2 separate regions of the Homo sapiens genome follow, and region 2 is linked to region 1. The links come from fine-mapping of genetic effects on gene expression. A gene starts in region 1. The other region holds a variant in brackets. All regions are shown on one strand. Distances are between the middles of the regions. Region 1 holds the start of KLHL18 (kelch like family member 18). Region 2 overlaps KIF9 (kinesin family member 9).

Region 1 (4,383 bases):
CAAAACAAATAAGCAAAAGCATCACTCTCCCTCCAGAGCCTGGCCCTTCTCTGCCCTGCTATTTGCCAACATGCACATGCACACGCAGTCACCCCATGTATGCTTCCCAAGGCCCTCCCATGCTGACACCATGGCTCCAAGCAGGCCAGGAGCCATATCCACCTGCAATAAAGTCTTCCTTTGCACACCCGTCTTGTGAGCCTGCTACTCAGCAGCCCTTTAACACCCAAACATTTAGGGACCCCATGCCATCTTGCACTTACTGAAATACTGCTTGTTACCATTCTTACGTCGCTTCATTTGAGTGGGTTTCAGTTCCCAAAATTAAATTACAAGCTGCTTGAAGGCAAGGATTGTGCTTTTTATCTCTTTTGAATCCCCTCACAATGTCCAGGGCAGAGCCCAGCACAGAGTAGGTATTCAGGAAATGGCGGTGGTTGGTGATGGTAATGGCTGGAAGTCAGAGGGCAGCTGAATCTTCATATGTGGGTCTATCTTCAGTCACTACTGAGAGAGTCCCAAGGGGCATATGATGTCACTCCCCTTCCATGACAACTCCAACCAAAGCCCACAGCCCTTCCAGGAGGACACTTGGTTTCCAGGTGCAAAAATCCACATCCAGCACCTCACCACACGCTTTTTTTGTTTTTGTTTTTGTTTTTTGTTTATTTGTTTTTGTGACAGGGTCTCACTCTGTCACCTAGGCTGGAGTGCAGTGAAACAATCTCGGTTCACCGTAGCCTCCACATCCTGGGTTCAAGCGATCCTCCCACCTCAGCCCCGCAAGTAGCTAGGACTACAGGCGTGCACCACCACGCCCGGGTAATTTTTGTATTTTTCGTAGAGACAGGGTTTCGCCATGTTGCCCAGGCTGGTCTTGAACTCCTGAGCTCAAGCAATCCGCTCACCTCAGCCTCCCAAAGTGCTAGGATTACAGGCGTGAGCCACGGCGCCCGGCCCCCTCCCTTTCTCCCTCAGGACCTTGTGGGGAATGTCTCTCCTTGGGGAACCACCCTTTGATATTTCTGGTATAACAAAGCAAGTCTCTGAATGGCCACCAGGAGACTTCTGTGTTAAGGCGCTCGAGGTTTCCTCATTTGTCTTTAGTGGGAATGAACAGAATTGGCAACAAGCAGCCATGAAGACTAGACAAGAGGAAAGGGAGCGTTTGGTGGGGTGGAAGGCACCAGGTGGGTCCCTATCTTCCAGTGCTCCCGTCCAGATGAGGGGCTGTCATGGGGAACCCTCATAGCTACCCGTAGCGGCAGCACCAACACCCGAATCCAAAACACTGGGTCCAACTGCACCTGGCCTTGGCTGAACAAGACTAGGATGCAGGCAAAACTAGACTTTCTCCTTTTTCTCACCCAATGTGCCGGACCCCCGCGTGGAGCCTGGGCGGCAGTGGGCTTTGGACCCATTCCGGTCCCTCTCTGGAGAGGTTTCCTCACCTGTAACACGAAGGGCTCCGACTGGTGATCCCAAAGCCCCCTCTAGTTCGAAAACTGACTAGTACGGAAGAGTCCAGACGACCTCTGGCTCCCTGCCTCACGGCCTCTATGTCCTGGACGCGACGTGGGACCCCTTTGTGGGACCAATGAACATTAGCTCCGAAGACCGTAAGCCGCGGTCAGGTTGAAAGGACTCCCGCGACGTCGAGCCCTCCTTCGCCTGGGTTTCAGAGATGAGCGACCCAGCTGGGAACCCCCAGATAAAGCGGTTTTTGGACCCCAGCCACTTTCAGCAGTCCGGGCGCACACCCTTTTCCCGTCTCCCCACTCCCACCGGCGAGCAGCCCCTGCTCACCGTTCACCAGGCAGCGACGCTCCCGGGACGCGACTGCCGCAACCGAAACCACCTGCACTCCCCACGCGGGGCTGCCTGGCTGTGTACATAGTCGCCATGGCAACGGGTCGCTTCCGGGGATTCCGGAAGTGTCGGGGTGGCGGAAATGAAGTCCGAGGTCCTACGTCGAGGATACGGGTGAGGTCATGGCCGAATCGGGAAGACGAGAGATGGGGCCGATTGATCTAGAAAGACTTCGGCGGATGCACATGCGAAGTCAAGGTCGAGATAGCGAGGGAACGAAGGCCGCACATGAACCAGGAAGCGGAGTGGCGGGGCTTCCGGCGCCGAGGAGATTCAACTACGGCGGCCGCGGAGGCCCGTCCGATTGCTGCTCCGCGCTCCGAGCGGCTGTCGGCGTGCGCTATCGCCCCGCCCTGGTTAGTGTCTAGCCGGCCGGCGAGGCCTGCGCAGTTGCAGCGGCCGGGGAAGATGGTGGAGGACGGCGCGGAGGAGCTGGAGGATCTGGTGCACTTCTCCGTGTCTGAGTTGCCTAGTCGCGGCTACGGCGTCATGGAGGAGATCCGGCGGCAGGGCAAGCTGTGCGACGTGACCCTCAAGGTACCGCGGACTGGGCGGCAGCGGGCTGAGGGAAAAGGGGTCGAGCGGGGAGTAAAAAGGGGCGGGGGACAGAGAAAGAGAGGTCTAGCAGGGAGAGGGGTGGGGAGAAGAGGTGTGAGGGGGGCCGAGTAGTGGGGAGAGAGGTGCCGAGCAAAAGGGGATCGGGGCCGAGTGGGGAGAGGAAGAGGACAACCTTTCAGCCCTTGAAAGGAAAGGTTGAGAGGTGCGCCGCTTAGGCCCTTGGAGTGGGAGACACGGGTGACAGCCTCCTTTTTCTGTCATGCAGACAAGAGAAAATGGACTTACCTTCTATGGAGGCAGGGGCGGTGGCCGGCTCCACATGCTGATGGGCACCACTGAAGAACCTTCTCTTGTCACTACAGATATTTCTTTGTGCCTGTCGAACTTGGCTGTGCTGTTCTAGAAGAGAAGGCTTCTCCTTAGGAATCATTGCCCTTAATTGTTGAATTACTACTTTGTCTCTTAAGAGCTTTTAAAATCTTCTCTGGAAAATTTTTGAGGTGGGAAGCCACCCTGCCCCATACTGGAAGGCACCACTCACCACCACAAAGGTCCCCGGGGCTGGGCCTGCTGGCCGCGTGGGGAGAGGGATGCTGACTGATATTAAGAGGGAAAGATATCTTAACCACCTGTTCCCCACCAGCATTCTGGTCGCTAGAGCCAGCCTCCCTCCTGTGCCTGGGTCTTTTCATGAGGAAGAGGCATGCTGTGCTGCTGCCTGGCCAAGCCACCGAACCATGTGGAGACGTCCGGTTGGGGAGATGATCAGTGGGGCTCCCTGTTGGGCTTTAGCTGGAAAGCTCTCAGCATCTGTGCGTGATCCCTGTTTAAAAAACAAACAGGGCAGGCATGGTGGCTCACACCTGTAATCCCAGCACTTTGAGAGGCGAGAGGATCACTTGAGTGGGGGAATTGGAGACCAGCCTGGGCTATGTAGGGAGACCCTGTCTCTACAAATAATAAAAAATTGTCTGGGCATGGTAGCCTGTGCCCGTAGTCCCAGCTACTCAGGAGGGTGAGGTGGGAGGATCGCTTGAGCCTAGGAGGTCAAGCCTGCAGTGAGTTGTAATCACACCACTGCACTCCAGCCTGGGCAACACAGCAAGATCCTATTTCTCCTATTTCTCTCTGTCTCTCTCACACACACACACACACACAAATAAATAAATAAAAGAAAAAATAAAACTATGCAGAGATTCTTTTGCTCTTCTTTTCTTTTTTCTTTTTTTTTTTTTTTTTGAGACGGAGTCTCGTTCTGTTGCCCAGGCTGGAGTGCAGTGGCGCTATCTTGGCTCACTGAAACTCTCTCTCCTGGGTTCAAGCGATTCTCCTGCCTCAGCCTCCCCAGCAGCTGGGACTACAGGCGCGCACCACTACCCCTGGCTAATTTTTTCTATTTTTAGTAGAGACAGGGTTTCACCATGTTGCTCAGGCTGGTCTCGAACTCCTGAGCTTCAGCAGTCTGCCTGTCTCGGCCTCCCAAAGTGCTAGAATTACACGCGTGAGTCACCGCGCCCAGCCTGCTCTTCTTATTTTCTACATGGTTAAGGAAACTTTTCTTCTGCAACATAGTTGAGTCAGACCTCTGGAGATGGTAGAGTAGGATGGTTGAGTATGGCTTTGAAAGCAGAAGGATTTGGATTAAAATCCTAGTTGTAACCTTGAGCAAGTTACTTAATCTCTGTAAGCCTCGGTTTTTTTGCTTTTATTTTTATTTTTTTGAGACAGAGTCTCGCTGTGTGGCACAGGCTGGAGTGCAGTGGCATGATCTTGGCTCACTGCAACCTCCACCTCCTGGCTTCAAGCCAGTCTCCTGCCTTAGCCTCCCAAGTAGCTGGGACTACAGGCGCCCGCCACCACGCCCGGCTAATTTTTGTGTGTGTTTTTAGTAGAGACAGGGTTTCACTACGTTAGCCAGACTGCTCCTGACCTCGTGATCCGCCCACCTCAGCCTCC
Region 2 (4,383 bases), 22 kb before region 1:
AGCTCCCTGAGGCCGCCCCCAAAGCAGATGCTGCCATGCTTCCTGTACAGCCTGTGGAACCATGAGCCAATTAAACCTCTTTTCTTTATAAAGTACCCAGTCTCAGGTGTGAGAATGGACTAATACACCTTCTTTTTTGGTGCTGGGTCTTTGAAATCTGGTGTGCATTTTACACTTGCATTATATGTCAGTCAGGACCAGCCACATCTGAGTGCTCCATAGCTACATGTGGCCAGTGGCTGCCATAGTGGCCAGTGCAGGTCTAGCCCCTGAGCAGCGTCTGCTCAAACTTTACCCTGTGAAGACACCCCTGAGCCATTCCTGGGAGGGCAGATGCTCAGGCCCCCTGATGAATAGACTCAGCAGTCTGGGTGGGAATGGGTAGTTCTGCTGCATTTGGAGGCAGGGGCCTCTAGCCACACATGCTAAGAAAGGCTGCTCTGGGGCGTGACCGATCTGTTAATGAAGCCTGGACTCTGCCCACCAGCCTTAGTCAAGTGTCCTCCCCACCATCCACAGGGAGTCTCCACAGGTTTGGGCTGAAAGGCTTCACTGCCAGCACAGAGATGGGCTCCTACCAGTTTTGTCCCCTGTATACACTTCCCTCAGGGACCTCTCTGCTGCCAAGCCACAAGGCCATGTCAGGACAGGAGGCGTACTGGGCTCTCTCAGCCTCCCTTCAGCAAGGCTTATGGCTATCATGTCTAACCCTGCATCCAACATCTGGGGCCTGGACCTCCCAGAGTGGCCTCAGCTTGCTCAGCCCTTCATTCTGTGAGAGAAGGGGCAGATAATGGGTAGGTAAGTGTGGGGAAAAGCAAGAGAGATCAGATTGTTACTGTGTCTGTGTAGAAAGAAGTAGACATAGGAGACTCCATTTTGTTATGTACTAAGAAAAATTCTTCTGCCTTGAGATTCTGTTAATCTATAACCTTACCCCCAACCCCGTGCTCTCTGAAACGTGTGCTGTGTCAACTCAGAGTTAAATGGATTAAGGGCGGTGCAAGATGTGCTTTTTTAAACAGATGCTTGAAGGCAGCATGCTCCTTAAGAGTCATCACCACTCCCTAATCTCAAGTACCCAGGGACACAAAAACTGCGGAAGGCCGCAGGGACCTCTGCCTAGGAAAGCCAGGTATTGTCCAAGGTTTCTCCCCATGTGATAGTCTGAAATATGGCCTCGTGGGAAGGGAAAGACCTGACCGTCCCCCAGCCCGACACCCGTAAAGGGTCTGTGCTGAGGAGGATTAGTAAAAGAGGAAGGAATGCCTCTTGCAGTTGAGACAAGAGGAAGGCATCTGTCTCCTGCCTGTCCCTGGGCAATGGAATGTCTCGGTATAAAACCCGATTGTATGCTTCATCTACTGAGATAGGGAAAAACCGCCTTAGGGCTGGAGGTGGGACCTGCGGGCAGCAATACTGCTTTGTAAAGCATTGAGATGTTTATGTGTATGCATATCTAAAAGCACAGCACTTAATCCTTTACATTGTCTATGATGCAAAGACCTTTGTTCACGTGTTTGTCTGCTGACCCTCTCCCCACAATTGTCTTGTGACCCTGACACATCCCCCTCTTCGAGAAACACCCACAGATGATCAATAAATACTAAGGGAACTCAGAGGCTGGCGGGATCCTCCATATGCTGAACGCTGGTTCCCCAGGTCCCCTTATTTCTTTCTCTATACTTTGTATCTGTGTCTTTTTCTTTTCCAAATCTCTCGTCCCACCTTACGAGAAACACCCACAGGTGTGTAGGGGCAACCCACCCCTACAGGTAAGCTCATGCCAAGTTATGATAGGGCCAACCCTTCCACAGCGCTTGCTGTGGCCAGGCTCTGTTCTAAGTGTAGAAGTGTGGTTGCTCATTTAATCCTCGCAACTTCCTGTAAGGTAGACGTATCATCAACCCAGTTTTATAGACGAGGACACTGAAAAACAGGGAGGTCAAGGCACCCACCCATGGCCACAGAGCTGGTCTGTG[G/A]CCACACAGGAATTCAACTCAGGCACTCCAGCTCCCAAGTCTGTGCTCTTCACAGCTGGGAGCAGGACCAATAGGAAACCCATCCTAGTGCCTGGGTGGGGCCTGGGAGGGGCCAGAGGAGTAGTTTGCCAGGTGATGGGGAAGGGATAAGTGCATCCTGATGGAGGGACAGTACGCCCCAAGTGTGAGGGAGGCGAGAGCCAGGTCAACATCTCAGGTGGACTGAGACAATGACAGGGTGCTCTGGGAGGAGGCTCAGTGGTACTGGCAGTGGAACTGAGAAAGGCCTTGAGGAATCATGGGCCTGGGGAATCAGTTTCTCAGGTAAGGCCAGCAAGTGGTAGGTGTTTGGTAAATGTTGAACCTGAAAGGAGGGAAGCATTGGAATGTTCGTTAGCCTTTGCTACTCAGTAACAAGGCCAAAAATTCAACTCAGCAGAGGTCTAAAATGTGTGTGTGTGTGCTGACTGGCCTCTGTGTCTTTGGCCCATTGCTTGTGAATAGAGATTATTTGCAAAATAGGTAAAATGAGACCACTAGGAAAGATAAATCTCTGCATAGAAGCATGCTCCAAAATGGACTCTGGGGTCCCCGGGACACTAAGAGTGATGCCTGGGGGGTCGCAGCAGAGTCTCTCTGGAGGGGGAGCCAGCCAAGGATAATTATGGCTGGAGGCCTATGAGGCAGCTATGGGAGCAGGCCCAGATGCCATGCCTCATTGCTTGGATGTTAGCTGAGGGGTGGAGAGCTCCTCCTTGGCAGTGACGAACAGCCAGGGGCCTCAGGAGGCAGGCCCAGAGATTCTTGCCTCAGGCCATGCTGGGCTGTCTCATCTCTCAATGAATGATCCTGAAATGAGGAAGCAGTCTAGGAGTGGCTGGCCCCTAAGTGGGCCAGAGGAAAGACTGAAAGGGCTCTTCCTTGGGCAGTCTACTCTGGTGGCTCAGAGCTCAGCCACTGACCCCCTGCAGGACCACTGACAGATCTCACATCTTCTCTGTAAGGTGAAGGGAGAGCTGCCTTGATAAGGTGTATATGCGCTCTGTACAGAGCTGGCTCACAGCGAGCCCTCAAGAAGACGTCTCTGTCATTACAGGTGGTGTTGCTTCTATGCAGGGCCAAGTCAGACTCTCCTACTCCAAGTACAGCCGCAAGTATGGCCATGTCCCATCCCTGTGGTTACTCAGCACACATGTACAGTGTCACTGCATAAAGCAATACAATCCATGATGAGAATAGTTTTAAAGTTTCAACACATTTGGAAGAGACAATCATTAGCTTCCATACCCCCAATATACCTTTGTCCCAAACCCCTGAGACCCCTCCAACAGCTCCTCTGAGCTCTGGGTTCCGTCCTGGGCAGAGAACCCAAGTGGTATATGGGCACAAGCCCCCGGAGACTGCGGGTACCAGGAGTTGTTTCCTGAGCTGTAACCATCACAGGAGGTGGGGATAAAGGGAGACAGGGAGCTTCTACTGTCTTGGAGGGCATCTTTGTTAACAAGGCAGCCAGGAGGCCCATTTCTTATGGCTCTTCTTGGGTTCAACCATGCGGGGTTTTTTTGTTTTTTTTTTTTCTTTTCTTTTGAGATGGAGTCTTGCTCTGTCACCCAGGTTGGAGTTCAGTGGCCCAATCTCCGCTCACTACAACCTCTGCCTCCAGGGTTCTCCTGTCTCAGCCTCCCAAGTAGCTGGGATTACAGGCGCCCGCCACCACACTCTGCTAATTTTTATGTTTTTACTAGAGACAGCGTTTCACCATGTTGGCCAGGCTGGTCTCAAACTCCTTACCTCAAGGAGTGATCTGCCCACCTCAGCCTCCCAAAGTGCTCGGATTACAGGCATGAGCCATTACACCTGGCCTCAACCATGCATTTTATGCCATGAGACCAAGAAGTTCCAGAAGCCTTCCTCTGGGGATGCTGCCTGCACGTCAGCTGGAGCTCTCCTCCCCTGCCTCCCAAGTCCCAGGGTGCTGGATGTACGACAGGAGCACTCTCCTTGGAAGCTGGGACAGTCCCTAATGCACACAGCTGCGAGACCCTGCAGGCATGTCTTGCCCTGAAGCATCTTTGGAAATAATCTGTTTCTCCTAAGTAGATTCTCCAGGTGACTGAAGCTTGCCTTAAACATCCACACTTGAAAAGTAAAATGTCTAATGATAGCTTTCCTAATCTGTCTTTTGTGGGGTTTTTTTGTTTTGTTTTTTTGAGACATCTCACTCTGTCACCCAGGCTGGAGTGCAGTGGTGCAATCTCAGCTCACTACAACCTCTGCCTCCCAGGTTCAAGCGATTCTCCTGTCTCAGCCTCCCGAGTAGCTGGGACCACAGGCATGCACCACCATGCCTAGCTAATTTTTGTATTTTTAGTAGATAGGGTTTCACTATGTTGGTCAGGCT

Evidence for each region. PIP is the estimated chance that this variant, and not a neighbour inherited with it, causes the effect. A credible set is the group of variants that fine-mapping cannot tell apart.
Region 2: its variant is the best candidate, but not a certain one, in a credible set for the expression of KLHL18 in skeletal muscle (GTEx, PIP 0.50).

Annotation. Positions count from the first base shown.
Region 1 is chr3:47,280,689-47,285,071 of GRCh38, forward strand. KLHL18 (kelch like family member 18) reads left to right here and starts at 2,256. Exons shown (of 10, transcript NM_025010.5): 1 at 2,256-2,406. The coding sequence starts at 2,278. KIF9 (kinesin family member 9) reads right to left here and starts at 2,111. Exons shown (of 21, transcript NM_182902.4): 1 at 1,807-2,111. RefSeq lists enhancers at 1,435-2,634, 1,850-2,239.
Region 2 is chr3:47,258,728-47,263,110 of GRCh38, forward strand. The region is part of intron 9 of KIF9 (kinesin family member 9); the gene reads right to left. Among named protein-coding and RNA genes, the nearest start is that of SNORD13J, 10 kb to the left of the region's middle. RefSeq lists an enhancer at 1,145-2,051. The variant G/A (reference allele first, on the strand shown) is at 1,983.